4 linked regions of the Homo sapiens genome follow. The protein of the gene in region 1 interacts with the protein of each later gene in a pairwise test. Each region holds a gene or a part of one and is shown on either strand. Other genes may lie near its edges. The genes, in order: SPAG5, RPTOR, PKN1 and GOLGA8F.

Evidence for each region.
Region 2: the proteins of SPAG5 (region 1) and RPTOR interact in binary tests that used the Homo sapiens proteins (3 or more experiments, as listed by UniProt).
Region 3: the proteins of SPAG5 (region 1) and PKN1 interact in binary tests that used the Homo sapiens proteins (3 or more experiments, as listed by UniProt).
Region 4: the proteins of SPAG5 (region 1) and GOLGA8F interact in binary tests that used the Homo sapiens proteins (3 or more experiments, as listed by UniProt).

Annotation. Positions count from the first base shown.
Region 1 is NC_000017.11:28,596,016-28,603,595, forward strand, and holds the start of SPAG5 (sperm-associated antigen 5), read right to left. Parts: upstream 3,011-7,580; 5' UTR 2,932-3,010; coding exon 2,881-2,931; intron 2,621-2,880; coding exon 2,495-2,620; intron 1-2,494. UniProt on the Homo sapiens protein: Essential component of the mitotic spindle required for normal chromosome segregation and progression into anaphase. Required for chromosome alignment, normal timing of sister chromatid segregation, and maintenance of spindle pole architecture.
Region 2 is NC_000017.11:80,890,823-80,897,852, reverse strand, and holds part of RPTOR (regulatory-associated protein of mTOR), read right to left. Parts: exon of another isoform or gene 6,134-7,030; coding exon 6,016-6,133; exon of another isoform or gene 5,682-6,015; intron 5,125-5,681; coding exon 4,984-5,124; intron 4,147-4,983; coding exon 3,988-4,146; intron 1-3,987. UniProt on the Homo sapiens protein: Component of the mechanistic target of rapamycin complex 1 (mTORC1), an evolutionarily conserved central nutrient sensor that stimulates anabolic reactions and macromolecule biosynthesis to promote cellular biomass generation and growth.
Region 3 is NC_000019.10:14,428,323-14,436,308, reverse strand, and holds the start of PKN1 (serine/threonine-protein kinase N1), read right to left. Parts: upstream 3,004-7,986; 5' UTR 2,788-3,003; coding exon 2,767-2,787; intron 1-2,766. UniProt on the Homo sapiens protein: PKC-related serine/threonine-protein kinase involved in various processes such as regulation of the intermediate filaments of the actin cytoskeleton, cell migration, tumor cell invasion and transcription regulation.
Region 4 is NC_000015.10:28,388,664-28,392,551, reverse strand, and holds the end of GOLGA8F (golgin subfamily A member 8F), read right to left. Parts: coding exon 3,759-3,888; intron 3,674-3,758; coding exon 3,489-3,673; 3' UTR 531-3,488; downstream 1-530.

The sequences.
Region 1 (7,580 bases):
CAGCCTGGGTGACAGAGCAAGACTCCGTCTCAAAAAAAAAATCTGCCAGGCGTGGTGGCACACACCGTAATCCCAGCTACTTGGGAGGGTGAGGCAGGAAAATTGCTTGAATCCGGGAGGCAGAGGTTGCAGTGAGCCAAGATTGTGCCACTGCACTCCAGCCTGGGCAACAGAGTGAGACTCTCAAAAAAAAAAAAATTTTTACAAAACAAAAATAATTGCTATTTTATTGGGGAAAAACCCTTTTCATTGTGTAGCTGACTGCATCTGGAGGTAGTAAGCCCAGCAGTTAAGAGGGAAGGAGAATTCGATTTCAATCTAGTATTCTGCTATTGTGATTAAATAATTATGGTTAAATTCTATAAGTTCAGGCTGGGCGCCATAGCTCACACCTGTAATCCCAGCACTTTGGGAGGCTGAGGTGGGCGGATCACCTGAGGTCAGGAATTCGAGACAAGCCTGGCCAATATGGCGAAACCCCGTCTCTATTAAAAATACAAAAATTAGCCAGGCATGGTGGCACGTGCCTATAATCCCAGCTACTAGGGAGGCTGAGGCAGGAGGATCGCTTGAACCCAGGAGGCAGAGGTTGCAACGAGCCAAGATCGTGCCATTGCACTCCAGCCTAGGGAACAAGAGCAAAACTGCATCTCAAAATTAATTAATTAATTAATAATCATAATAAATTCTATAAGCTCTATAGAGCTAATTTCCACCTAGTACTTATTTATTTTTCATCTTAAGCTGTACTGTCTAATATGATAGCCACTAGCCACATGTAGCTATTGAAATTAAAATTAAAAATTCAGGCCGGGCACAGTGGCTCACGCCTATAATCCCAGCACTTTGGAAGGCGGAGGCGGGCAGATCACCTGAGGTCAGGAGTTCGAGACCAGCCTGACCAACATGGAGAAACCCGTCTTTACTGAAAATACAAAAATTAGCTGGGTGTGGTGGCACATGCCGGAGGCTGAGACAGAAGAATCGCTTGAACCCGGGAGGCAGAGGTTGCGGTGAGCCGAGATCGCGCCATTGGACTCCAACCTGGGCAACAAGAGCGAAACTCCATCTCAAAAAAAAATTAATTAAATTAAATTAAATTAAATATTCAATTATTCAGGCCAGGCACAGTGGCTCACACCTGTAATCCCAGCACTTTGGGAGGCCGAGGCGGGCGGACCACTTGAGGTCAGGAGTTTGAGACCAGCCTGGCCAACATTGTGAAACCCTGTCTCTACTAAAAATACAAAAAATTAGCCAGGCGTGGTGGTGTGCACCTGTAATCCCAGTTACTCAGGAGCCTGAGGCAGGAGAATCGCTTGAGCCCTGGAGGCGGAGATTGCAGTGAGCCAAGATCACGCCACTGCACTCCAGCCTGGGTGACAGAGCAAGACTCCGTCTCAAAAACAAAAAAATTCAATTCTTCAGTCACCTCAGCCACGTTTTAAGTGCTCAATAACCATGTGACTAGTAGTTACCATGCTGGACAGCACAGATTATCAAATATTTCCCTCATCCCAGAAAGTTCTATTGGACAGTAGGTATTTTGCAACTCTTTCAAGAAAGACTGCTATGCTATCATCATACTTCTGTTACTCAGGATGTCATCTGTCTATACACTCTTCTTTCCTCCTCATACCTATTTTATTGATATCCCATCTCCTTCCAAAAATAATTCATATGCATGAAAATGAATAGATACGATTAATGAAATAACAAAGTCATGGTCAAAAAAGAGGAAGCAAAACTTCCTATACAGCTATAACAGTAGCTGTATGTGATGATCCAGTTTGGCCTTGAGCTTTCTAGAAGGCAGAGCAAGAGGGAAAATATGGTAAACTACATAGTTCTCATTATCAGAAAGAAAAGGATAGCAATTTCTTCAGGAAGACAATTTTTCCAGGCAGTTAGTCCTAAAGCCTTTCTTGGAGGAATCTTATACAGGAGTCAAGCTGCTTCCTTGACAAGTTTTGACAGCAACTGAAATGCAGTTTCTACATGGCTACGTCTCTCAAAACGTTTAACAAAAGTACAAATCAGTGAGGGCAATTCTGCAAGGAGCTAGTTTAAACTAAGGTGATTCAAGTACCCTACCTTCCAGTGGTGTAACTTGATCCCAGGAGAGTTCTAACTACCTCCTAGAGTAAATGGATATTGCCTCAATCTTGCAGGTGACTGACCTTTCCGTAAGTGACCCCATGTTGGAGGAAGAGCACTAATCAGGGTGGTAGGATTTCTCAATAGTTTGATAAAGGTCGAAGGGAGGAGGAGGAGGTAATAAAAACTAACAGCTAAACAGAGATTCAAGTTCTCACTGGATTTCCTTTAACCACCCTAGGGCACCTCTCTGTTGGCCTGAATAGCTGTAAATGGATGTCACCGACGTAGAAGACTTCATTATCGTTATTAATTATTGTAGCCCTGGCCCTCTGTTCCCCTGAGCTCTCACCCTGGGCAAACAGCCCAGTCGAGAAGCTGTCCAGGCGAATCTCACCTGCAGCCCCAGCTTGCACAGTGATGGGGTCAGCGAGGAGCAAGCGGGGGATCTTTTTCCAGAGTTGGTGAGGGCACCGGGCTGCAGGGTAAGTTCACGGAGAGGAGTTCTCATAGATGGTTTTCCCTGAGAAAGAAACCAAGAAAGAGGGCGAGTGTGAGGAAGCCTGGGTTCTGCCAGCCCGCCCCTCCTCCCTCCCTAAGAAGCCCAAAATGCGATTAGAAGAGTACGCTCGCACCCTAGTCGCGCAGGAGCAGCAAGGCGAACAAAGACTCCACAAGCCCCCAACCCCGGGCTCGACCCAACTTTCCAGGACAGTAGACACGGCCGGTGCCCCCGCGACAGCAGCCCGGCCCAGTTCTCTCCGCCAGAGATCTCCCGCTTACCGTCTGGGGCGAAGGCGACAGGCTGAGGCTCAGTTTTTTCACTCGCCACATCTTCAACCAGAAGGCAGGCCTATCACGTCTCAGACCAAGTCGAGGACGCCATGTTCACCCGCCGTCTGTGTTTGAACCTGCTCTGCGCTTCCTGGTTGGCTGCTTCAGGCGCGCGCGTACGCTCGGGGGTAGAGCCCGGGGGGCGGGGCCCGCGTTGACCACGCCCCCGGCCCTGCCTGCCCCTCCGTTGTCGAGCGTTTTCCGCTGACGGAGCCCTCACCTCAGACACCGGCGGTAGGGCTGGATGCGGGCCCGGCCCAGGACCGGTCTTCTGTCCTCACACCGGGGAGGACCACGCAGGTAGCTGGAGAGTCCAGGAGTCCATCCCTCCTGCTTCCAGCGGACCTCCTCACATCCATGGTGTTCATATCCAAGTTGTCTCCGTGGATGGAGAAGAGGAATCCTCTCCCTAGGTCTCCCTCAGTCCTCTCCAGCCGCAGCCTTGACGGGAAAGAGCCGGCCAGGGAGTCTAGAAGCCGAAGCGGTGCCGAGCGGCTTCCCTAGGCTTGGTGGGCCCGCGTCCGGGACGGCCCGGGCCGTGGTTCTCGACCTGGGCTGTAATGTCTCCAGAGTTTCTGGGCTTTTCCTGGGACTTACTCAGGCCGGCTACCAGTTTACTGGGCTAACCGCCTACATGTATTGAACATTGAGTGTGTGCCTGGCGCTATGCCGAATGCCGTGTAGTAGCTCATTTAATGCGCATAAGGACCTACGTAGTGAGAAATACTATAAATATCCCCATTTGTGACAGGAAGGAGCTGAGTCAGAGAGACCGTGTGTAATTTGCTCAGCGTCACACAGATAGTAAACGGCAGAGCCGCTCTTCCTCCCTGTCCCGCCAGCTCCTGCCTTCTGCTGTCTTGGATCTCCTATGCACGGGAAACCTGTTGAAGGTAGGACAGCCGAAAGGTCAGTATTCAGAGTGAGCCGTTTGCGAAGGTGTGTGTGCTTTGCACACTCACGGCGCCCTGTTTACACTCTGCAAGTCTTAATACATAGGGGGAAAGCAGCAGTCCAAAGAGGAGGAACTATGATGTTATAAACTGCAGCGTCCTCAGGGACGGGCTCCTCTAGCATTGTGTTGTCCAGTACGTTAGCCCTAGCCATAGTGGCTTTTGAGCACTTCAGATGTGACTAGTCCCAGTGGGAATGTGCTATAAATGTAAAACACTGTACAAACTGGATTTCAAACACGTCGTATGAAAAAAAGAATGCAAAATATCGCCAGGTGCGGTGGCTCATGCCTGTAATCCCAGCACGGAGGAGACAGAGGCAGGAGGATCCTTTAAGCCCAGGAGTTCGAGACCTGCCTCGGCAATATAGTGAGACCTATGTCTACAAAAAAAAAATTTGGGCCGGGCACGGTGGCTCACGCCTATAATCCCGCACTTCGGGAGGCCGAGGCAGGCGGATCACCTGAGGTCAGGAGTTCGAGACCAGCCTGCCCAACACGGCGAAACCCCGTTTCTACTAAAAATACAAAAATTAGCCAGGTGTGGTGGCACACGCCTGTAATCCCAGCTACTTGGGAGGCTGAGGCAGGAAGAATCTCTTGAACCTGGGAGGCGGAGGTTGCAGTGAGCTGAGATGGCACCACTACACTCCAGCCTGGGTGACAGAGCTAGACTCCGTCTCAAAAAAAAAAAAAAGTTAAGCCAGGGGTGGCAGGGTTGGGGGCACACACCTATAATCCCAGCTTGGGAGGATCGCTTGAACCTAGTTCAAGGCTGCTGTGAGCTATGATCATCCCACTGCACTCTAGCCTGGGCGACAAAGCAAGACCTTGTCTCAAAAAAAAAAAAAAATATATATATATATATTTTTTTTTTTTAATACTGTTTACATATTGAAATATTTTAGGAATATTGGGTTAAATAAAATACATTAAAATTAATTTTCTTTTGAGACAGGGTCTTGCTTTATCACCCAGGCAGGAGTGCAGTGGTGCAATCATGGCTCACTGCAGCCTTGAACTCCTAGGTTCAAGCAATCCTCCTGCCTCAGCCTCCTGAGTAGCTGGGACTACCGGCATGTGCCACCACGCCTGGCTAATTTTTTATAAAGACAGTCTCTTGCCATATTGCCCAGGCTGGTATTGAATTCCTAGGCTCAAGCGATCCTCCCATCTCAGCCTCCCAAAGTGTTGGGAGTACAGTCATGAACGACCCCACCCAGCCTTTTTAAACTTTTTTTTTTAATCTAATTTTTTTTTTTTTTGAAACATGGTCTGGCGCTGTTGCCCAGGCTGGAGTGCAGTGGCACGATCTCACCTCCCTGCAACCTCCACCTCCTAGGCTCAAGCGATCCTTCTGCCTCAGCCTCCCAAGGAGCTGGGATTACAGGCATGTGCCACCACGCCTGGCTAATTTTTGTATTTTTAGTAGAGACAGGTTTCACCATGTTAGCCAGGCTAGTCTTGAACTCCTGAGCTCAGGAGATCCACCCGCCTCAGCCTCCCAAAGTGCTGGGATTACAGACATGAGCCACTCTACCCGGCCCCTCTTTTTACTTTTTGAATGTGGATACTAGCAAATTAAAAATTACTTATGTGGGCCAGGCACAGTGGTTTGGCTGATCTTGGCTCACTGAAACCTCTGCCTCCCAGGCTTAAGCAATCCTCCCACCTCAGTCTCTTGAGTAGCTGAGACCATAGGTGCATGCCACCATGCCCAGCTAACTTTTTGTGTTTTTGGTAGAGACGGGGTTTCACCATGTTGCCCAAGCTGGTCTCCAACTCCTGAGCTCAAGCTGCCTGCCCGCCTCGGCCTCTGAAAGTGCTAGGATTACAGACGTGAGCCACTGCACCTGGCCTATTTAAATTTTTTTAAAAAAGCTTTGACAACATTTCTACATTGAAGACTCTATCAAACAAGTAACCAATAAATTGAGATTACTAATTTATTACATCAATGAGCAAGTGAACAAATGAACAGATTAATATGTAATAAAGTAACTTAGGTTAGAGATAAGAAATAATGAGTAGAGCTACAAAGATACTTTTCTAGAGGAGTATAGGATTGGTGTTGACTAATCTTAAATTCTTACAAAAGATAACATGAAATATAGAATTAAATATCCATTACAAGTGAAGTCTATCAGATTTCTTTTTTTTGAGACGGAGTCTTGCCTCGCTTTGTCACCCAGGCTAGGATTAAAGGCACGTGCCACCACACCTGGCTAATTTTTATATTTCTTTAGTAGAAACAGGGTTTTACCACGTTGGCCAGGCTGATCTCAAACTCCTGACCTCAAGTAATCCACCTGCCTCAGCCTCCCGAAGTGCTGGGATTAAAGGCGTGGGCCACCACACCTGACCTCTTTCTTTTTTTGAAGCAAGGTCTCTGTCACCCAAGCTGGAGTGCAGTGGCATGATCATAACTCACTGTTTCAATTGGCAATAATCAGTAATAATTGTGCCTCGGATAAACCTTACTGGCTATGATACTGCCACTGCCCAAAGCTGATTATAGGTCACTGTAGCCTCGACCTCCTGGGCTCAAGTAATCCTCCTCAGCCTCCCAAAGTGTAGGGATTATAGGCATGAGCCATTGCACCTGGTCCTGATTTCTTTTAGATTAAAAAAAAAAATCAGAGCATATAAACTTAAAAGATCATTTCAGATTGTATATTGAAAAAAATGAAAAAAAAAAATTTTTTTTTTTTTGAGACAGTCTCACTCTGTCACCCAGGCTGGAGTGCAGTGGCACAATCTCGGCTCGCTTCAACCTCTGCCTCCCAGGCCCAAGCTATTCTTGCGCCTCAGCCTCCTGAGTACTGGGATTACAGGTACACACCACCATGCCCAGCTAATTTTTATATTTTTAGTAGAGACAGGGTTTCACCATGTTGGCCAGGGTGGTCTCAAACTCTTGGCCTCAAGTGATCCACCCACCTTGGCCTCCCAAAGTGCTGGGATTACAGGCATAAGCCACTGCACTGGGCCTAAGGGAATTTTTTTTTTTTCTTTTTGAGACGGACTCTCACTGTCACCCTGGCTGCTGGAGTGCAATGGCGTGGTCTCGGCTCACTGCAACCTCCGCCTCCCGTGTTCAAGCGATTCTCCCACCTCCACCTCCCTGGGACTACAGGCACGTGCACCACACCTGGCTAATTTTTGTATTTTTAGTAGAGACAGGGTTTCACTATGTTGGCCAGGCTGGTCTTGATCTCCTGACCTCGTGATCCGCCCACCTCGGCCTCCCAAAGTGCTAGGATTTACAGGCGTGAGCCACTGCGCCGGGCCAGGAATTTTTTTAATTTTAATTTTTAATTTTTGTGAGTATATAGGTGTATATATTAAGTGAATTTCATGTGAATATGTAAAAGGTATAAGTCAGTGACTCTGAATGGAGGTGGAGGGAAGAGGAGGAGAAAATGCCTTCCAGAGATAATCACATCAGAACTGGATGAAAGAGTCCGTGCTTTTTCTTTTTTTTTTTTTTTAATGGGAAAGGACTTCAATATTTTATTTTATATACTTTCTTTTTTTTTTTTTTGTGGGTTCCTCTCTTTTTTTTTTTTTTAATTTAATTTTATTTTATTTTTTATTGATCATTCTTGGGTGTTTCTCGCAGAGGGGGATTTGGCAGGGTCATAGGACAATAGTGGAAGGAAGGTCAGCAGATAAACAAGTGAACAAAGGTCTCTGG
Region 2 (7,030 bases), about 52 Mb from region 1:
GGCGTGATCTTGGCTCACTGCAACCTCTGCTGCCCGAATTCAAGCAACTCTCCTGCCTCAGCCTCCCAAGTAGCTGGGATTACAGGCACCTGTCACCATGCCCGGAGGAGCCAGTTTTACTAGGCAGGTACAGACTCAATGTCTAAACCAGCCAGGTCAGGACAAGAAAAGTCACAGCCCAACCCACTCGTGAATGCCAATGGGGAGCGCCCAAAGAAATAGCTGGTGAGCGTAAGGCAGCGATGTCAGGGGACATTACCACGCTGGGTGCCCCCAGAAATGCAAGGATATTTCACAAGAAATTCAATCATGTAATTCCCTACCCTAACAAACAGCCATGCACAGGGTCATTCTGAGATGCAGAAAATACATTCAAAGAAATTAATTCCATTTATCAGGAAAATTCTTAACTAACTAGAATAGAATGGGAATTTGCACTCATAAAAAGAGTGAACCAAAGGGAAGGGAATTTCTATAAACTGATATAGAGCACCCACTCAAAAAATCTACAGCAAATGTCGTATCAAAGGTAAAAGGTTAGAAAGGTTTCGTTTACTCTCAAGAGAGAAACACAGATGTCCACTGCCATTCTTTTTTTTTTTTTTGAGATGGAGTCTTGCTCTGTTGCCAGGCTGGAGTGCAGTGGTGTGATCTCCGCTCACTGCAACCTCCGCCTCCCCGGTTCAAGTGATTCTCCTCCAGTAGCTGGGACTACAGGTGCGCACCACCACACCTGGCTAATTTTTTTATAGTAGAGACAGGGTTTCACCATGTTGGCCGGGATGGTCTTGATCTCCTGACCTCGTGATCCGCCCGTCTCGGCCTCCGCCTCCCAAAGTGCTGGGATTACAGGCGTGAGGGACCGTGCCCAGCCCACTGGCATTCTTTCTTTTTTTGCCAGCAACAGGTTTTAAAAAAGATATTACTTAAAATTACAAAAACTGAAAGGTAACGTCATGCCTGTGACCTTTATGCAGAAAGTTAGACTGTCTTGAAGACATAAAGAAGACTTAAGTAAATGGAAAGATACACCCTGTTCAGGAGCAGGAAGACTCATGATGCAAGGAAGTCAGTCATCCCAGGGAAATCCACCAATTCAGCGCCATTCAAACAACACCCCAGTGAGGCTGCTGTCGACACAGAAAGCCTGACTGTGAAATGTATACAGCAGAGCAAAGGGCTAAGAGCGGCCAAGACAGTTCTGAGAAACGAACTGAGGAGCGGGCTCAAAGGTGCTGCCCCCGCAGCTGTGGTGTGACGGCGCGGCCGTGTGGGGTGTCGGCGCGGCTGTGTGGGGTGTCGGCGCGGCCGTGGGGTGCCGGGGTGGCTATGCGGGGTGTCGGTGCGGCCGTGGGGTGTGTCGGTGCGGCCGTGGGATGTGTCGGTGCGGCCGTGTGGGGTGTCGGCATGGCCGTGGGGTGTTGGCGAGGCCGTGTGGGGTGTTGCTGCGGCCGTGGGGTGTCAGCGAGGCCGCGTGGGGTGTCGGGGCGGCTGTGTGGGGTGTCGGCGCGGCCGTGGATGGGATGGGTGCTGCTAAGAATGGAGCCCCCACTCAGACCCTAAGGACTGATGGCCAGGGAGACGCTGAGAAGCACTGGCGGGAGGACGGGCTGTCTGATGAAGGGTCTGGGGTGGCATAAAGAAAAAATACAACCTGGATCCCCACCTCACCACAGAGACAAAATGTGGTTCAGGATATACTTAAGACATGAACACAAAAAAGGAAAATTTTAAATCTTGGAAGAAAATGTAGGAGAATATGTTTAGGACATTGAGAATAGGAAAAACAAGACACAAAAGGCCCAAGTTATAAAGAAAAAGAGAAACTAAAAGATTAAGCTTGTGTGGCACCAAAGGCATCATAAAAAGTCATAGATTAGATGCATTTTCGATGGATATATTCAGCCAGGAATCAGCACCCAGAACTGTGATGAATGCTGATTACAAACTACTCAGAGAAAGATAAACGACACAAGGCGAGTCTGTAAGGCTGCAAGGCTGTAACCTCACTGCAATCAAGGCAGATGCAAATTCATGCCACAAGGAGACACCAGGTGTGTCTATCAGACAGACAAAGGCTGGCCAAGACCGGCGTGGTAGAGAGTGGCGAGATGGGGGCGCCTGCGCTTTAGAACAGAGGATCCCGTGGAAGGCCTGGGGCGACATCTACAAAAGCTGAAGGTGCAGGCACCGTTCACGCAGCAGCTTCACTCTGAGGCAAGGTGGCGAGAGGCACTCACGTGTATCCACGCTGAAGAACACGCACCACACACGTGCCCGTTTATGTGTATTGAGCACCTACTGCGTACCAGGCACTGGGTGTGGACAGGGTGGGAGGAGACAGTGGTTAACAAGGCTGGGTTCCTGCACGTGCGGCTCTCAAGCTCCAGGGGAGAGAGATGGGCCGGGCCAATGAACAAGTTACACGTACAGCACGTCTGCAGTCCACAGTCCTCAGGAGAAAAATAAAGCAGGAAAAGGGAGCAGGGTCAGAGGGCAGCTGGGGAAGCCTGATTCCAGGTGGGGCGTGGGGCTGGGGAGGCTTCTGGGAAGGTGCTGCCAGATGGGGGCTCTGAATGAGAGGGGAGCGGCCACCATATGCCGGAGAAGAGCTTCCCCACCGATGCCCAGGCTGGGGGCCGGGTAGGCTGGGGCCCAGCAGAGCTGGGTGCAGCGAGTGAGGGTGTGTTGGATGTGGGGCTCCATGGTGGCAGGGGCTGAATTCTGAGTTTGCTTATTAAGAAAAGGAACAAAAGGCAAGAAGAAACTAGAACCGGCCTCACTGTCCCCAGACAGGAGAATGGATAATGGAGTCACGGCAGATCGCGGAGGTGAAGGAACAAAACCTAGATGACCATCAAAGATACATATTGAAGTCAGAGCCAAAGAAACGGGCTTTGCGGGCCACGCATCGTGCGACGGCGCCAATAGGAGGTAAAGGCCTCTAAGTGGGCACCACGTGTGTGCCAGGGCTCATGGCCAGGGAGGGAAAGTGTAATGTCACCAGAGGGAATGGGACCGGGGTAGGGTCTGGGGCTCGACCTCTGTAATTCCTTAAGCTGGGAACACAACACACACACACACACACGCAGCGCTCTTATATAAGTCTCTGTAAATTTTTACATGGCTAAAATGCTCCTTAACATGAAAAAAATTCAAATGAAGCCGGTAAGCCACTCTGGATAGTCAGAACAAGAGGAGATGAGGCTCATTTGGTTAAGCCCTAAATCTGTTACCAGCAGTGTGAAGATGAACATAGCTACACAATAAGAAAACACGGTGAATTCCTGCTTCTCCTGTTTTACAACAGCAATCCTGGTGGTAGGACCCAGGCACACACCATTCATGGCAGAACAAGAGAAGAATCTGACCCTTCCGTCAGATTTCCATTTCCAGGCAGTGCTGCGTCAAGCTGCTGGGATGGAGGGAAAGTTGTGTGGAGATTCCGCAGGTGAGCAGGGCGGGGATGACAGCCCCCAGCCCGACCGCAGGGCCCTCCGCCTCTCACTGCGGACACTGTGTGGGGGCTGTCCTGGGCACCAGGGGATGTGAGCAGCTTCCTGGCCTCACCCACTGGGACAAGGAGCACCCCTACTGTACCCCAGTTGCTCGTGGGGGGCAAAACCACCCCCGGCTGAGAACCACCGTTCTGCATCACCAGGGTGTCCAGCACCATGAAGAACTCTCACCCGTCTATGGAACAAAGATGGAAGGTTCTGGCAGCCTTCCCACCCAGCCAAACTGGCCAGCTCCGATGGCTCCGGAGCAGCCTGTAAAATACTACCCCAACACAACAGTGATGTCAACTTTCCCGCTTGCCCCAGCAAAACGTTCTCCCTGCCTCGCAGTCCTGTTGACCTTTATTCTTTCTTTTGAACAGACAGTTTTGACACCCACTGACCTGATGCAGACACAGGTCTGTGCTGCTCTGTGTGGGGAGGAGACCCTCGGGGCCCCTCGGAAGCAGAAAGGGGCAGGCGGACTCACCGATGAGGGAGTTGAGGGAGGAGTAGGAGCTGGCGCGGCGCATCTTGTCGATGGTCTCGAAGGACAGGATATGCTCCTCATTCTCGGGGCTGCCCAGGGTGCTGCTGGCGCTGCTGCTGGTGCTGAGGTTTCCGGGGGAGAACGCCACCGCGCCACCAGCTGCCCGAGACGCAACGGGGTCAGTGGGGTGCTCCCGGGACCCTCCTTTTGGTCTTACAGTTAATGGCATGACTGAGATACATATTTTCTTCTAAATAAAGCTCAGCACACCCAGGCACAAACACACCCTGGTACACACACACCCTGGTGCGCACACACCCTGGCATGTACACACACCCGACATACACACACCCTCATACACACACACCCTGGCGCACACACCCTGGCGCGTACAGACACAACCTGGCGCGTATACACACCCAGTACACACACCCTGGCACACACACACCCTTGTACACACACACACACACCCTGGCATGCACACACCCTTGTGCACACACACCCAGCACACACACACCCTGGCGCACACACACCTGGCGCGCGCACACACCTGGCGCACACACACACCCGGCGCACACACACCCTGGTACACACGCACCCTGGCGCACACACCCTGGCACACACGCCCCGGCGCACACACAGGCACAGGCACTCACTGATCTCCCTGGGAGCCAAGCTCCCCACCCGCAGACCACAGGTTACTGGGAGACGGGGGCAGGGCACAGCCCTCCAAGGAGCCACCGCCTCAACTGCGGCTGCGCTTGAGCTCCCTGCCGCATTGGTAACGGGCCCGCTGGCTATTCTGGGGGCTGGCCTACGCCTCCTTGCCATGCTCACGTCTGGAAGGGTGACTCATCACCATGTTGGCAGATGGGACTTCAGGGCACGCACTTAGACGAAGGGGCAGGGGCAGAGTGGTGCTTACTCAGATACAGTGTTTCAGAAAAAACAACCCCAATCTCTCCCAATCCAATAACCCGATTTCCAGGATCTTACATTCCTCTGTCAAACTCAGGTTCTGCAAAGATTTGTTGAGGCTCCTGGCTGTGGCGACAGCACGGATGTTTCCATAGGAGCTCACAGAACGAAGTCTGGGGGTGCACGGGCTGTCTCGCACTGGGGTCAAACTCCCTCCCTCTGGGAAAGAAGGAGAAAGACAAATTACAATGGGCTTCCAGGTGGAGGCCAGCGTGTCTTCTGACACTCAGCAGCTGGGACACTCGGTGACGGCAGCTGCTACCTGTGCTGCAACAAATGTCAGAGCAGGGGCTGCACAGCTCAGGGAGACTCAGACGTGAGCGGAGGCTCTGCGGGATAGCACTGGACAAACAACAACCGCTTGTGGCTCTGTGCATATTAAATTACAAAAGACAACAGGGGAGAGGCTGGTGGCTGCGGCCTGTCCGAGTGCACACGAGGTGCATGGTGACGTGGGCCGTGAGCCGTGCTCCCCGGGAAGCCGCAGCAGAGCAATGACCGTCCACACTCAGTCTGGCTCACCCTTCTCCCCTCCTGGGCTTCCTAGAAGCAGTGAGGCCTCACTGCTGATGACAAGCCCCTGCACGGCAGAGACGGCTGTGTGGAAGCGGGAGGGGCTGCCGGCAGCGATGAGATAGGAACTGTACTCTCCAGTCAAAACGACACGTGTGAGAAAGCACGCCTGACATGACTCACCGAGCCACGGAGCCAAGAGCAGTGTGATGAAATTACTCATCGCAGGAAGACGGCCCCTGCGCTTTTCCGCAAGCTCCTACTGCAGAAGTTTTGTCATACTTCAAGGTCTCTGTGAGTTTAATTTCCAAAAAGGGTAAAAAGAAAGGAAAAATGTAAGAGGGTCAGTGTGGCCCTCTTTCCTGCCCTTTTAAATCTGGCAGGTGCCTAAAAAGATGAGAAAAACAGGGACCCCTTGCGGCAGGTATCTGAGAAACCTGCGCTTAGACTCTGCGAGGGTGAGCAAGACTGGGCCGCGGCCTGCACTAGAACCGCCAGGCGAGGTGCTCTGCGGGTTCACAGGAGAAGACGCCATACCTGTGGTTGCTGGAGAAGGCAAGGCGTAGTTCTTTTCCTCTTCTATGAACTGCAGGGCCACGGTGCAGAAATTGCTTTCATACTGAACCACAAGATGACTCAGAGCCACCACCAGCTCCTGCCGAGAGGGAGAAGGGACAATAACAGTCACTGGGGCTGGAAAATGATTGTGGAGCAGCAGTGAGACTTGAGTCACCAACAGAAAAAAGAAAGGTTAAGACAAAACCGTGCAATTGGCATCAGAAACAGGGACCATCCCTTTTCGAACCGTCAGAGCAGAGGCCTTGGAATAGCAGAGTGCTGGGAGACGGCAGGCCACTGGCTCACGGGGGAAGCCCAGAATGCCTGCCAGAATCCTCCCCACTGCTAGAGGCGCACGACGCATCGGGGGTCTCGTAAGGACACGGTGAGTCACAGGACTCCAGAGAGGGAAAGGTAGGAGGCCTCACAGCCTCTCGCTTACGGTGACCACTGGGACCCTGGCTGAAAACGCCGCTCTAGATCACACCCGATGGCTGGCGGCCTTTCTGAATCTGAGCGCCCCAGGGCCGAGTGCAGCGGACAAGCCGAAGCCTGCTCTTTTCAACACATGTGAAACTTTCATTGGTAGATGTTTCTAGTCCCTAAGAGGGAACGGGAAAAGTTGTAGAACTAAAACATCATCTTTAGGACCAAATGCCTTGGTCCAAGGGAACAGACACAATTTGCCTCTCTTTTAGGACAGTTCAGTGCTGTGACAGGAACAGCTGGAGATCCTAGAAGTCACTGGGGAACAGAAGGGGGATGTAGGTTTAAAAAGCGGAAAGAACGTTTTTTTCCCTACGACAACTTTTTCTGCCTTTTTTTTTTCTGAAAAGAAAAAATACGGATTCTTAGCAGAAAGCCAAGCGCTGTGAGAGGACCCCTTGCTAGTCGCGTGACGCCCCTGTCTCCACAGCGGCTGGATGAGCAGGCTCTGGATGGGCGCCCACCAGGGACCAGGGTCTTCTCGTGGCCACCCCACTCTCCGTCTACG
Region 3 (7,986 bases), on another chromosome or scaffold:
CACTGCACTCTAGCCTAGGCGACAGAGCGAGACTCCATCACAAAAAAAAAAGGAAAAGAAAAAAAGAAAGGCTGGGGGCAGTGGCTCACACCTGTAATCCCAGCACTTTGGGAGGCCTAGGCGGGCAGGTTACTTTGAGCTCAAGATTTCAAGACCAGCCTGGGCAACATGGCGAAACCCTGACTCTACTAAAAATACAAAAATTAGCCAGGCGTGGTGGTGTGCACCTGTAGTCCCAGCTACTCAGGAGGCTGGGGTGGGAGAACGGCTTGAGTCTAGGAGGCAGAGATCATGCCGCTGCACTCCAGCCTGGGTGACAGAGTGAGACCCCAGTCTCAATTTAAAAAAATAAAGAAAAAAAAATTAGCCAGGTGTGGTGGTGCATGCCTGTAGTCCTGTAGATCAGGTGTTTGAGGCTGCAGTGAACAAGAATCTCGTCACTGCATTCCAGCCTGGGTAACAGAGCGAGACCCTGTCTCTACAAAAGTAAAAGGAAATTAGCCAGGCATGTTGGTCTGTGCCTTTTGTCCCAGCTACTTGGGAGGCTGAGGCAGGAAGATCACTTGAGCCCCGGAAATTGGAAATCGAGGCTGCGGTGACATAGGATCGCACCACTGTACTCCAGCCTGGGTGACAGAGCAAGACTCTCTCCTCTAAAATAAATAAATATAAATCAGTAAATCAATCAATAAGGACACAGATTCACACCCTGAGCTGCTGACCAGGACGCTTACCAGTAACGACTTCACAGCAGCCCTGCCTGCCAAGTGCTGGCAAGGTCTCGGTCTCTCTCTCTCCCATGAACACCCTCTTAGTCCCATTTTTCCTAGGTCAGAACCGAGGCTCAGAGAGGCGAAGGCACTGGGCCCAGGACACACAGCGAGGAAGTGTCAGCGCTGGAATTTAAGCCCAGGCTCACCAAATACCACCCTCGCTCAGAAGGCCCCACCCCATCCCCAGCAGGCAGAGGGAGGACACAGCCAAGAGCGGGGCCAGCTCAACTGGGGAAGTCCAGGCAGAGAGGAGAGGTGGCCTCCCTCAGCCCCACCTCCAGCAGCTGAGGTCTGTAATGCACAGAGGGAGGGAGGCTGGGCTCCTGGGTTCTCCTCCCCTGAGTGACTCACTTCTACCCAAGGCACAGGGGTCACCTGAGGGCCAGCAAGGCAAACCCAGGACTCAGGGCCCTGGCCTGGCCTGTCCTATGGAGAACCCCTGCTCCTCCGCTGCCCACCATGGAGCGGAGACCTCAGACCCAGAGGACCTGCCTCCCATAATCCCCATCTTGCCAGAGCAGCCAGGGACCTAGACTCCCACATCCGGAGATTTCAATGCCTTGGGCGTTTCCGGAATCTGGACAGGACATCCGTTTGCAGGACACAGAACAGACAGGCACACGTTGGGACAGACAGAGGGACAGGGCAGCAGGCCCAAGCAACCATGAGAGAGGGATGACCAGGAGCGGGGAAGAGACTGGGGAGGAGATGGGAAGGGGGGACCAGGGCGTGGGTCCAGCCTCGTTGCAGGAATCACAGCCTGTCTGGGTCATGTGTGGGATGCGCCAAGCGCATGCATGCACCCGGGGATTCCTACACAGCCCTCCCTGGGCCGGGGGTAGAGGCAGGGACCCCGGCCCATCCCGGCCTTGAGGTCTGACCTTGTGTGATCGGCAACACCAGATACGCCCAGCTCCTCGGCAAGGCCGGCAGGCCATCAGCAGGACTGGGAAGGCGGGAGGGACCGGGGGTTACCGGGGAGACACAAAGGGGCCGGGGGCAGGTGCAGAAGGAGACGAGAACCCAGTTACACAACAACCACAGGACAATGAACTGGATGGTGAGGTGCTAATGGGGACACTGAGGCACAGACATTTCTCAGATTTGGGTCACTTGAACCAAAGAAGGTTGGCAGTCACCCTGGCCGTGCTTGTCACAGACGGGGAAGATGAGTCCAGGTCAGTGATCCCCACCAGGTGGCACAAGGGGAATCTGGCTGGGCGGGAGGCTGGTGCCAGTCACGTGTGTGTGTTAGCAGGGTGGGGGTGACCCAGCCATGCCCAGCCACCATGCAAAAAAGTAGGATTCTATATATGGGAGCATCCCTGGCCTGTTGACTGAGACACTCCCCACCCAGGAGAAGGTTCCACCTGACAGCCCAAGGGTGGGAGTGGGGGTCCCCATTCCCCCGACCTAATGCAGTGACTCGGGTACTTCCGCCAACAGGTGCCAATCTGGGTGGCGTCTGGAACATCATAAAGCTGTCTAGAGGCGGGGGTGGCTGGAGCTTTGTTATGCGGGGGAAGGGCACGGGCCGGGCCCAGCAGCCTCCTCCCCTCCCAGGGCACTGCGCCAGGCACGTGCCCCAGGTGGAGCGGCACCTGCCGGGTACCCAACCCTGGGGAGGGGGATGAGTTTGGGGGCGGACGAGAGGCACTGGGACGCCCAGCCAGCCACAGACACCCGAAGTAGAGCCTCCGCCGCGCCCCTTCTAGTTCTCCAGGAGAGGCCGAGTTTGAGGGTGTAGCAGGGGTTGCCTCCGGGATCGCCCCCAAACCAGCCCAGTCCACATCGCCACCTGCCGAGAAGGGGGCCTCGCTGGCTCCACAGTCCCGGCCCAGGGAGGGGGCGCCGGGCGCTCCGGAGGCCCCCGCCCTTGCCATCGTCACCCGAGTCCCGTTCCGGGGGCTGGGGGGGCTCCCCCGGCAGCGCGCGGGCGGGGTCCGCCGGCGCCGTCCGGTCGCCCCGGGACTCCAGACGCAGGTGCGCCTACCTGCACGGCGTCGCTGGCCATGTCCTCCTGCCGCCCGCCAGGGGTCCCCGCGCGGAGGGAGGGGCGGCCAGAGGAGCGCGCGTGCGCCCCGGGCGTGGCGGGGAGGGGGCGGGCGCGGCGCGACCCTCCCCGGCGCGCGGCCCGCTCCGGCCTGCTCGGCTCCCGCCTCGCCTGGCCAGGCCGCCGCGTCCCCGCGCCGCGCCCTCCGGCCCCAGCGGCCGCCGGGCCTGGTCACGTGACCCCGGAGGTCGGCGCCCGGGGAGGGGGCGGGGCCGAGGGGGGACGGGTTCCCAGAGGCCCCCGGGGCTGCGGGGTCCCGCCCGTCCGCCCCCTCGGTCTCCCGAGCCCGGAGCATCCCCATCGGCTCCCCACCTTTCCTCTTTCCGGGTCCCGAGACGACCGCACGCTGCCGAGGGGTCCCCCATTGGAGCGCGCGGGAACCCGAGGAGAACGGTTCCACGCGTTCAAGCCGAGAGCGGCGGAGGCCTTTGGGCCTCCCGGGACCCCTGAAAAAAACAAACAGAATAACCCCCCACCCCACCCTACCCCGGTGCATTTGCAAGCTCGGGACGCCTGCATCTGTGGTCCCCTATTCAAGGGCATGGAAGTTTCCCCGTTACCTGGAGACAAGCTCTGGGCGGATCTGCATTCAAATCCTAGCGCTTTACGCCTTGAGGGAGACAAACCCTTCCAGGCACCTCATCTGTGAAATGGGAATGATGCGCTCACCTCCTCGGTGTTGGTAAAATTCAATAAGACAGTGCAGGCCAAGAGCTGAGAACACACTAGACGCTCCATAAGTGTTAGCTGCTGTCACTTTTAATGTTATCGTAATTGTTTGTTTGTTGTTTTGCTATTTTTGGACGGAGTTTCGCTCTGTTGCCCATGCTGGAGTGCAGTGGCGCGATCTCGGCTCACTGCAACCTCCGCCTCCCGGATTCAAGTGATTCTTCTGCCTCAGCCTCCTGAGTAGCTGGGATTACAGGTGCCCACCACCATACCCGGCTAATTTTTGTATTTTTAGTAGAGACGGGGTTTCATCATATTGGCCAGGCTGGCCTCGAACTCCTGATCTCAGGTGATCCGCCCGCCTCGGTCTCCTAAAGTGCTGAGATTACACAGGCCTGAGCCACCGCGCCCAGCCTCTATTATCGTTATTGTTATTAAAAGAGGTTTGAATCCCAACTTGCTGTTCATCCTGGGGACCCCTGTGGCCTCTGAGTCTCAGTTTTCCCCGCTATAAAATGGGCATCGCCTTCTTTTTCGGGGCTGCTGCATGCAGATGGCGCTCCATAAATGCAGACTCGTGCCCAAGCGGAGAGTGGAGGCCTCTGCGGAATTTCTAGGGGATCTCCGGGGTCTGCAGAGCGTGCAGCTTTGTTCGTGGCCGCCGTCGGACCCTCACTCCTTCGGAAACCAGGCGAGGGAGCCAAACCTTGGTCTCCGGGGCTCCGGCAGGGAGCGCTCCCTGGCGGCGGTGCCTGCACATTGGCGCCCTTTGGGACCCGAGGAAGCGCCGTGGGCTGCGGGTACCTTGGTTACCCGTGGCTCTGCGTGGTTTCAGTCGTCCCAGAAACCAGGGCGCGATGTTTTCTCTCTTATTTTTTCCTCTGAGCAACTCTTTGGGAGATACTAACAACAGAAAGAGAGAAGGAGGAGAATTATGCTGATCCAGAACCCATCCAGCCGGGCATGGTGGCGCACGCCTGTAGTCCCAGCTACCAGGAGGCTGAGGCGGGAGGATCGCTTGAGCTCAAGAGGCCGAGAATGCATCACTGTGGGGAGAAATCATGATGCCCCTGCACTCCAGCCTGGGTGACAGAGCGAGACCCTGTCTAAAAAAAGAAAGAAAAAAAAAAACGGCTGGGTGCAGTGGCTCACCCCTGTAATCCCAGCCCTTTAGGAAGCCAAGGTGGGTGGTGGATGGATCACTGGAGGTCAGGAGTTCGAGACCAGCCTAGCCAATATGGTGAAACCCATCTCTGCTAAAAAATATAAAATTAGCTGAACGTGGTGGCGCATGCCTGTAATCCCAGCTACTCGGGTGGCTGAGGCAGGAGAATAGCTTGAACCCAAGAGGCGGAGATTGCAGTGAGCCGAGATCGTGCCATTGCACTCCAGCCTGAGCGACAGAGCAAGATTCCATCTAAAAAAAGAAAAAAGAGGGGGCCAGGTGTGGTGGCTCACGCCTGTAATCCCAGCACTTTGGGAAGCAGAGGCAGGCGGATCACGAGGTCAGGAGATTGAGACCATCCTGGCTAACATGGTGAAAGCGGCGGGCGCCTGTAGTCCCAGCTACTAGGGAGGCTGAGGCAGGAGAATGGCATGAACCCAGGAGGCGGAGCTTGCAGTGTGCCGAGATCGCGCCACTGCACTCCAGCCTGGGCGACAGAGCGAGACTCCCTCTCAAAAAAAAAAAAAAAAAGAGAAAGAAAACAACAACAACACACACACAAGCCCAGAATTCACCCACATTTCACCTTTCCACTTTGTCGCATCCAGTCCCTACCATCACTCACCTTAACCAGTAGTCACCTCTCTCCTGGTCTCCTGGTTTTGCCCTCGCCCCCACAGTCTGTTCCCACAACAGCCCAAGGGAGCAGTGAACACATGAGATGGGGTATGCCCCTCCTCTGTCTAGAACCCTCCATGGCTCCCAGCTCACTCAGGGAAAAAACTCAGGTCCTCCCCACAGCCCACGAAGCTCTGCACCATCAGTTCTTACTTCCTCCCATCTCTCCCCCTTGCTCACTCCTTCCAGCCACATGAGCCTTCTAACTGTTTCTCAAATGCTTGTTGATTGAATAAAAGAAAGAACTCTGTGGCTGGGCGCAGTGGCTCCCACCTGTAATCCCAGCAATTTAGGAGGTCAAGGGGGGTGAATCACTTGAGGCCAGGAATTCGAGACCAGCCTGGCCAACATGGTGAAACCCCATCTCTACTAAAAATTAAAAAATTAGCCAGGTGTGCTGGCGGGCATCTGTATATTCAGCTACTTGAGAGACTGAGGCAGGAGAATGGTTTGAACCTGGGAGGCGGAGGTTGCAGTGAGCCAAGATCGCACCCCTGCACACCCCCCTGGGTGATAGAGCAAGACTGTCAGAAAGAAAGAAAGAGAGAGAGAGAGAGAGAGAGAGAGAGAGAGGAAGGAAGGGAGGGAGGGGAAGGGAGAAAAAGAAAAGAGAAAAGAAAAGAACTCATGGCCAGGCATGGTGGCTCACGCCTGTCACCCCAGCACTTTGGGAGGCCCAGACGAGCAGATCACGAGGTCAGGAGATCGAGACCATCCTGTCTAACACGATGAAACCCCATCTCTACTAAAAATACAAAAAATTAGCCGGGCGTGGTGGCGGGCGCCTGTAGTCCCAGCTACTCGGGAGGCTGAGGCAGGAGAATGGCGTAAACCTGGGAGGCAGAGGTTGCAGTGAGCTGAGATCACGCCACTGCACTCCAGCCTGGGGGACAGAGCGAGACTCCAGCCTGGGGGACAGAGCGAGACTCCCTCTCAAAAAAAAAAAAAAAAAAAAAACAAAAAAAAACTCTGCAAGCTAGTTCTTTCATATTTATTTATTTATTTGTTTGTTTGTTTGTTTAGACAGAATTTCGCTCTCGTTGCCCAGGCTGAAGTGTGATGGCACGATCTCAACTGAACGCAACCTCTGCCTCCCTGATTCAAGCAATTCCCAGCCTTAGCCTCCTGAGTAGCTGGAATTACAGGCATGTACCACCACACCCGGCTAATTTTGTATTTTTAGCAGACATGGGGTTTCTCTACATTGGGCAGGCTGGTCTCGAACTCCTGACCTCAGGTGATCTGCCCACCTTGGCCTCCCAGAGTGCTGGGATTACAGGTGTGAGCCACCGCGCCCAGCCTGATATTTATTTATTTAGAGACAGGGTCTCACTCTGTCACTCAGGCTGGGGTGCAGTGGCGCCATCGCAGCTCACTGCAGCTTCCACCTTGCAGGTTTAAACGATCCTCCTGCCTCAGCCTCCCAGGTAGCTGGGACCACAGGTGTGCACCACCATGTCTGGCTAGTTTTTTCAAAAAATTTTTTTGTGTGTGTGTAGATACTGGATCTCGTAATATTGCCCAATCTGGTCTTGAACTCCTGGGCTCAAGCAATTCTTCTGCATTGGCCTCCTGAAATGCTGGGATTACAGGCATGAGCCATCAAGCTTGGCCCAAACTAGTTCTTTTGCTCCAGTTTTGCAGGTGAGTAAGCTGAGAAGTCCCTTACCCCAATCATCAAGCCAGGATGTCTATGGCCCTTTCCCTGAGAAACGAAGTAGCTCCCTCTAATTCTCCAGCCCACCCATTCTACAGATGAGGAGGACAAGGCAGAGTGAGGTTTCATGGGGGCCGAAGGATTGGGTTGTCTGGAACCACCTTGCACAGGGATGGGCCCTCCCTCCCCAACCTGTGAGGTCCCAGGCTGCCTCCCCAGATGGAGCTGGGGAAACCAGCCAAATTCTCGCTCCACCCTTCAGGCATTCATTTACTCAGTGAATATTTACAGAGACCCACTGGGGAATTTGGTGGCACTGGAGATAAAGTTGCAGTTCAGGCCTTTTTTTTTTTTTTGGAGACAAAGTCTCATTCTGTCACCCAGGCTAGAGTGCAGTGGGTGAGATCACAGCTCACTGCAGCGCAGCCTCAACCTCCCAGGTTCAAGTCATCCTCCCACCTCAGCCCCTTGAGTAGCTGGGACTGCAGGCATGCACTACCATGCCCAGCTAATTCTTTTTTTTTTTTTTTTTTTTTTTTTTTTGCAGAGATGAAGTCTCACTGTGTTGCCCAGGATGGTCTTGAACTCCTGGCCTCAAGTGATCCTCCCGCCTCGGCCTCCCAAACTGCTGGGATTACAGTTATGAGCCACCACGTCCAGCCACACTTTGTTTGCTAAAAGGGGAGACGTGGCCAGGTGTGGTGGCTCAAGCCTGTAATCCCAGCACTTTGGGAGGCCGAGGTGGGTGGATCACCTGAGATCAGGAGTTTGAGACCAGCCTGGCCAACATGGTGAAACCCCATCTGTACTAAAAATACAAAAAAAATTAGCTGGGTGTGGTGGTGAGTGCCTGTAGTCCCAGCTACTCAGGAGGCTAAGGCAGGAGAATCGCTTGAATCCGGGAGGTGGAGGTTGCAGCAAGCCAAGATTGCACCATTGCACTCCAGCCTGGGCAACAAGAGCAAGACTCCGTCTCAAAAAACAAACAAAC
Region 4 (3,888 bases), on another chromosome or scaffold:
GGACTCAGCTCTGGTCAAGGTGGCAAAGGGTCTGTTTGTCTTTCCTCGTTAGACAGAGGTCTTGTCCTGCTACCCTAATTGTAAAGGGGTGACTGGGAAGGGGAGATAGGGACAGTGTGGTGGTGGAGACCCCAGCCCCACTTCTCCAGGCTTTGCTGACAGGGGCCTGCTTTTAATTTTAATTTTTATTTTTATCCCATGCCTTTTTTTTTAAATCCCATAACTTCTTTTTCATAACTTTTTTTGGTAACTTTTCATAAAACTTTCTTCTACTTTTTGGTCACAAGATTTTTTTGCCACAACTTTTTTACATTTTTTATCCCATAACTTTTTCACCCCATAACTTTTGTTAATCCCATAACTTTTTTATTTTGTGTTCTTTTAATAAACCCTTGCATAGTTATATTACAATTTTGTAAAAATGAAACATTATCTCATGCCAAGCATGCTCAGCATTTGCACAGTATCAATACCTTTAATACTATATTTTTGAAGACACACAGAATAAAATTTTAAGGCAAAAACAGCACTTTGCAACAACTTAATAATTTATTACATTACAGTAGCATCACACCAGCAGTCAATAATGCCACTTTAGGCAAAAGTCTTTCAGTATTTCCGTTTTACATTCCGCTTACAAGAATTCATAAATTGGTAAAATTCATTCTAAGAAAACTTGGCAAATAAAGCTTTGGACTGGAATTGGCATTTCTTTCTCTACTTTTCCTTCCCACCGTTTATTTCCTTTACAGTATTCATATTTTAAAATGTTTTAACTTATTTCAGAACATTAAGATAGCAGTTACATTGTTTAATAGTTATTTTAAAATGACTGTTTCAGATAAAGTTTTAGAGAAACTATAGTATGGATAGGGCTGATTTACATTTTCAAATTTTCTAAAAATCAGCTTTGGTTTTAGAGCTGATTTTTGTTCATTTCTGGAAAACCTATCAGATTTAATCCAATACTTTAAAAATGATTATTATATATTGCAATCTTTAAATCGGTGATTTGATTCTTCCTACAGAAATTCAAATTTATTGAATTGAACTCACATTTTAGAATTCTGTTTCTGATGAACTCTAACCTTCCAATGTTGCCCTCTAAGCAAATTGAAAGCTGCCTTATACCGAATGAGGAAGAATACCAATACTTGGCTGAATGAGGTATCGCAAAAGACTGCATGCACTTTGAAGAAAGACTTAAGTTATAGTCATGCGATTTCCATTCTTTTTAGCTTTTTCTTAAATATACGACAAATATCTACACAAAGAGTGGTATTTCCGTTAATACAGTCAATTTATTTTCCAGATTGACATTCAGCTTAAATATGCCAGTATGTGATTTAATCCACAGGCACCTGATGAACACATTATTGTCAGATTGGTTACAGATGCTCGTAGTTGTCTTTAAACTGAACTCAAAGAATGCAAAAACATCAAGTTCAGAAAATAAAAGGCAAGGACAGGACTTTAAGTGCATTTTAAAGCCACGGGCGAGAAATCGTACCACTGTTAACTAGCCGCATTATTTGGTCTAACATTTTTTCTTTATCATTCTGAAACTGGGTTTATCTAATACATTGATACATTCATACAATTTGGAAGAGTCCGTTGAAGTCACAAGGACCCGATGTTTGCACTCTTTCAGTGATTGCCGGCAAATCTGTTATTCCATCGGCAAAATCGTACTGCTGCTCTCCTGTTAATGTCGTATTTATAAAAGTATCATGAGGATGCCAAATGCTAAAAATGGAGATGGTCTAGTAACTAGAAATCCCCACCCCAGGGAGCACACATACATATCTCCCTACATCCTAATAATGTGATGTGTTTTGGAACACAGACATTAGAACTTCATGAAGTTTTAACTGTTGAGTCTTTCCCAAGCATCATCAAGTTATGATTTAGGCAATGTACAACTGAAATTCATTCATTCATCATGCATAGGCACAATCACATAAATACTGCACAAAATATGCCCGTAAGTGAAACCCAGAGGTACAGAAACACATTTCACTCTTCACAAAGAAGTTTGTGAGGAAATATAACTCTGTGATTGTATAGACATGTTTCCTGATAATACACTGACATTCACCAACAGTAGATTGCACTGCAGTTTGTACACATTTTAAGTTGCATAAACTTCTCCTTGATTTTCAAAGATAGTATAATACTGTCTACTAAAACTCCTTTTTGTTTCAACTAAGCACTCTCACATATATTAGTTTATAACAATGTTTATTATTATTTCAAAGTGTTTTCCATTCAAGGAAAAGAAGTCAATTCCTATGTCAAAGTAACCAAGGTGGTTGAAGAATAGGCAGAGTGGTCTAGATGGTAAAATCAATCTTCAAGCCTCAAAGAAGCTCCATGAACAGAGGAATGCCAGGTGTCACACAGCTTTCCTTCACTCTAATTCATTCTTGACTAGAGCTTGTATGCCTGTTCCAGGGACATTTGAACTCTTAAAGGATTTCTTATGATCTTTACTAAATACATTAAGAAGAATGCCAACCAGTGCCCTTTTGTGTACTGGGACATGCAGTCATGTGATTAAAACAGGTAACATGAACTCTGACTTTAAAATATAGATACAAATGCTCTAAGCTAGGAAAGGTTTTCCACATCCGTAGTCAATGATGGGAACCTTTCATTCCTCAGAAATAAGCCCTTTTTAGGTCATCAAAAAAGAGTACAACTGCTGAAGCTCATGATGCAATATCTTCATGAGCCCAGAGCACATACAAATCCTAAAGGAACTACAATAGTACAGCACTAATTCTTGGCAACAGAACAAATGAAACACACTCTATCTTGCACATACCTGCCAGAGCAGGCAACTTTCCTCTTCTGTGAAATTTAAAAAGCTCCCCCAAAATGTTATTACTCCCATCACCAATACACAGAAAATGAGGGAAAGGCTGTTTCCAGTTCTCGGCCTTTAAACAACTCTAAATGTCAGTACTCTTGGTGGCATATTACAAAGTATTAAATAGTGCACACTTGGGGCAAACCACATATTGTGCTAATGAAGAGCTCACTGTGATTAAGATTAGATCAAACAACAGCAGAACATAGGCACATTTTATCTGAATTCTGTAATGAATATACATGCTGCAATAACATTAAAAACACATGGCAGCCTATTCCAAACCAGCAAGAATAGTTTTGTGCAAATAGTGGGTCTTTGTGTGTTTGAACTCCCACCACGTAAGGGCAAACTCAATATGCATGCTAATGACCTACAATTATGAAATTGAAAAAGAAAATTGCGAAAGTATGCCAGAGTGAACATCAGTGAAAGCCACAGAGACCCACTCTCTTTTAACTATTTACAAATGAACTTAAACTATAAATTAGAAACACAAATAATCATAAGTGGCTATAACATTCAAATGAAGTAAATGAATTGTGTAGGAGATTAACCCCATAACTTTGTTTCTTTTTTAAAAATTTCTTCAGCAGCTCTTTGACGATGGTGATGTTTATCTCCTTCTTCTTGGCAGCCAAGCCCAGCAAAAGAATGGCACACAGCAGTTGCTGCCCAAGCCTGGGTGCTCCTGGTGGTCCTGCACGATCGGCTGTGCAGTAGGGTTGTCGTGGGGAGAACCCTCCCTGGCCTCTCCTTGCACAGGCTCCACGCTGTCAGTGAGGCTCACCTCACAAAGATCTTTGGAGAGAGGGAGGCGGGGATCTGAGCTCAGTGAGAGCCCCCCTGCTCCTGCCTGCCCACCCCGCCTGAGGGCTCTACTCACCACCATGCTTGTGGGCAGCCCCAAGCTCCTGGGGGGCTGGGGCTCCTGGACTGGGCTCATGAGCAGGGTTCTGGGCAGTCACCAAGAATTTGCTGTGTCCCTTGTAGTCGCCACCAGCTGCAACACCATC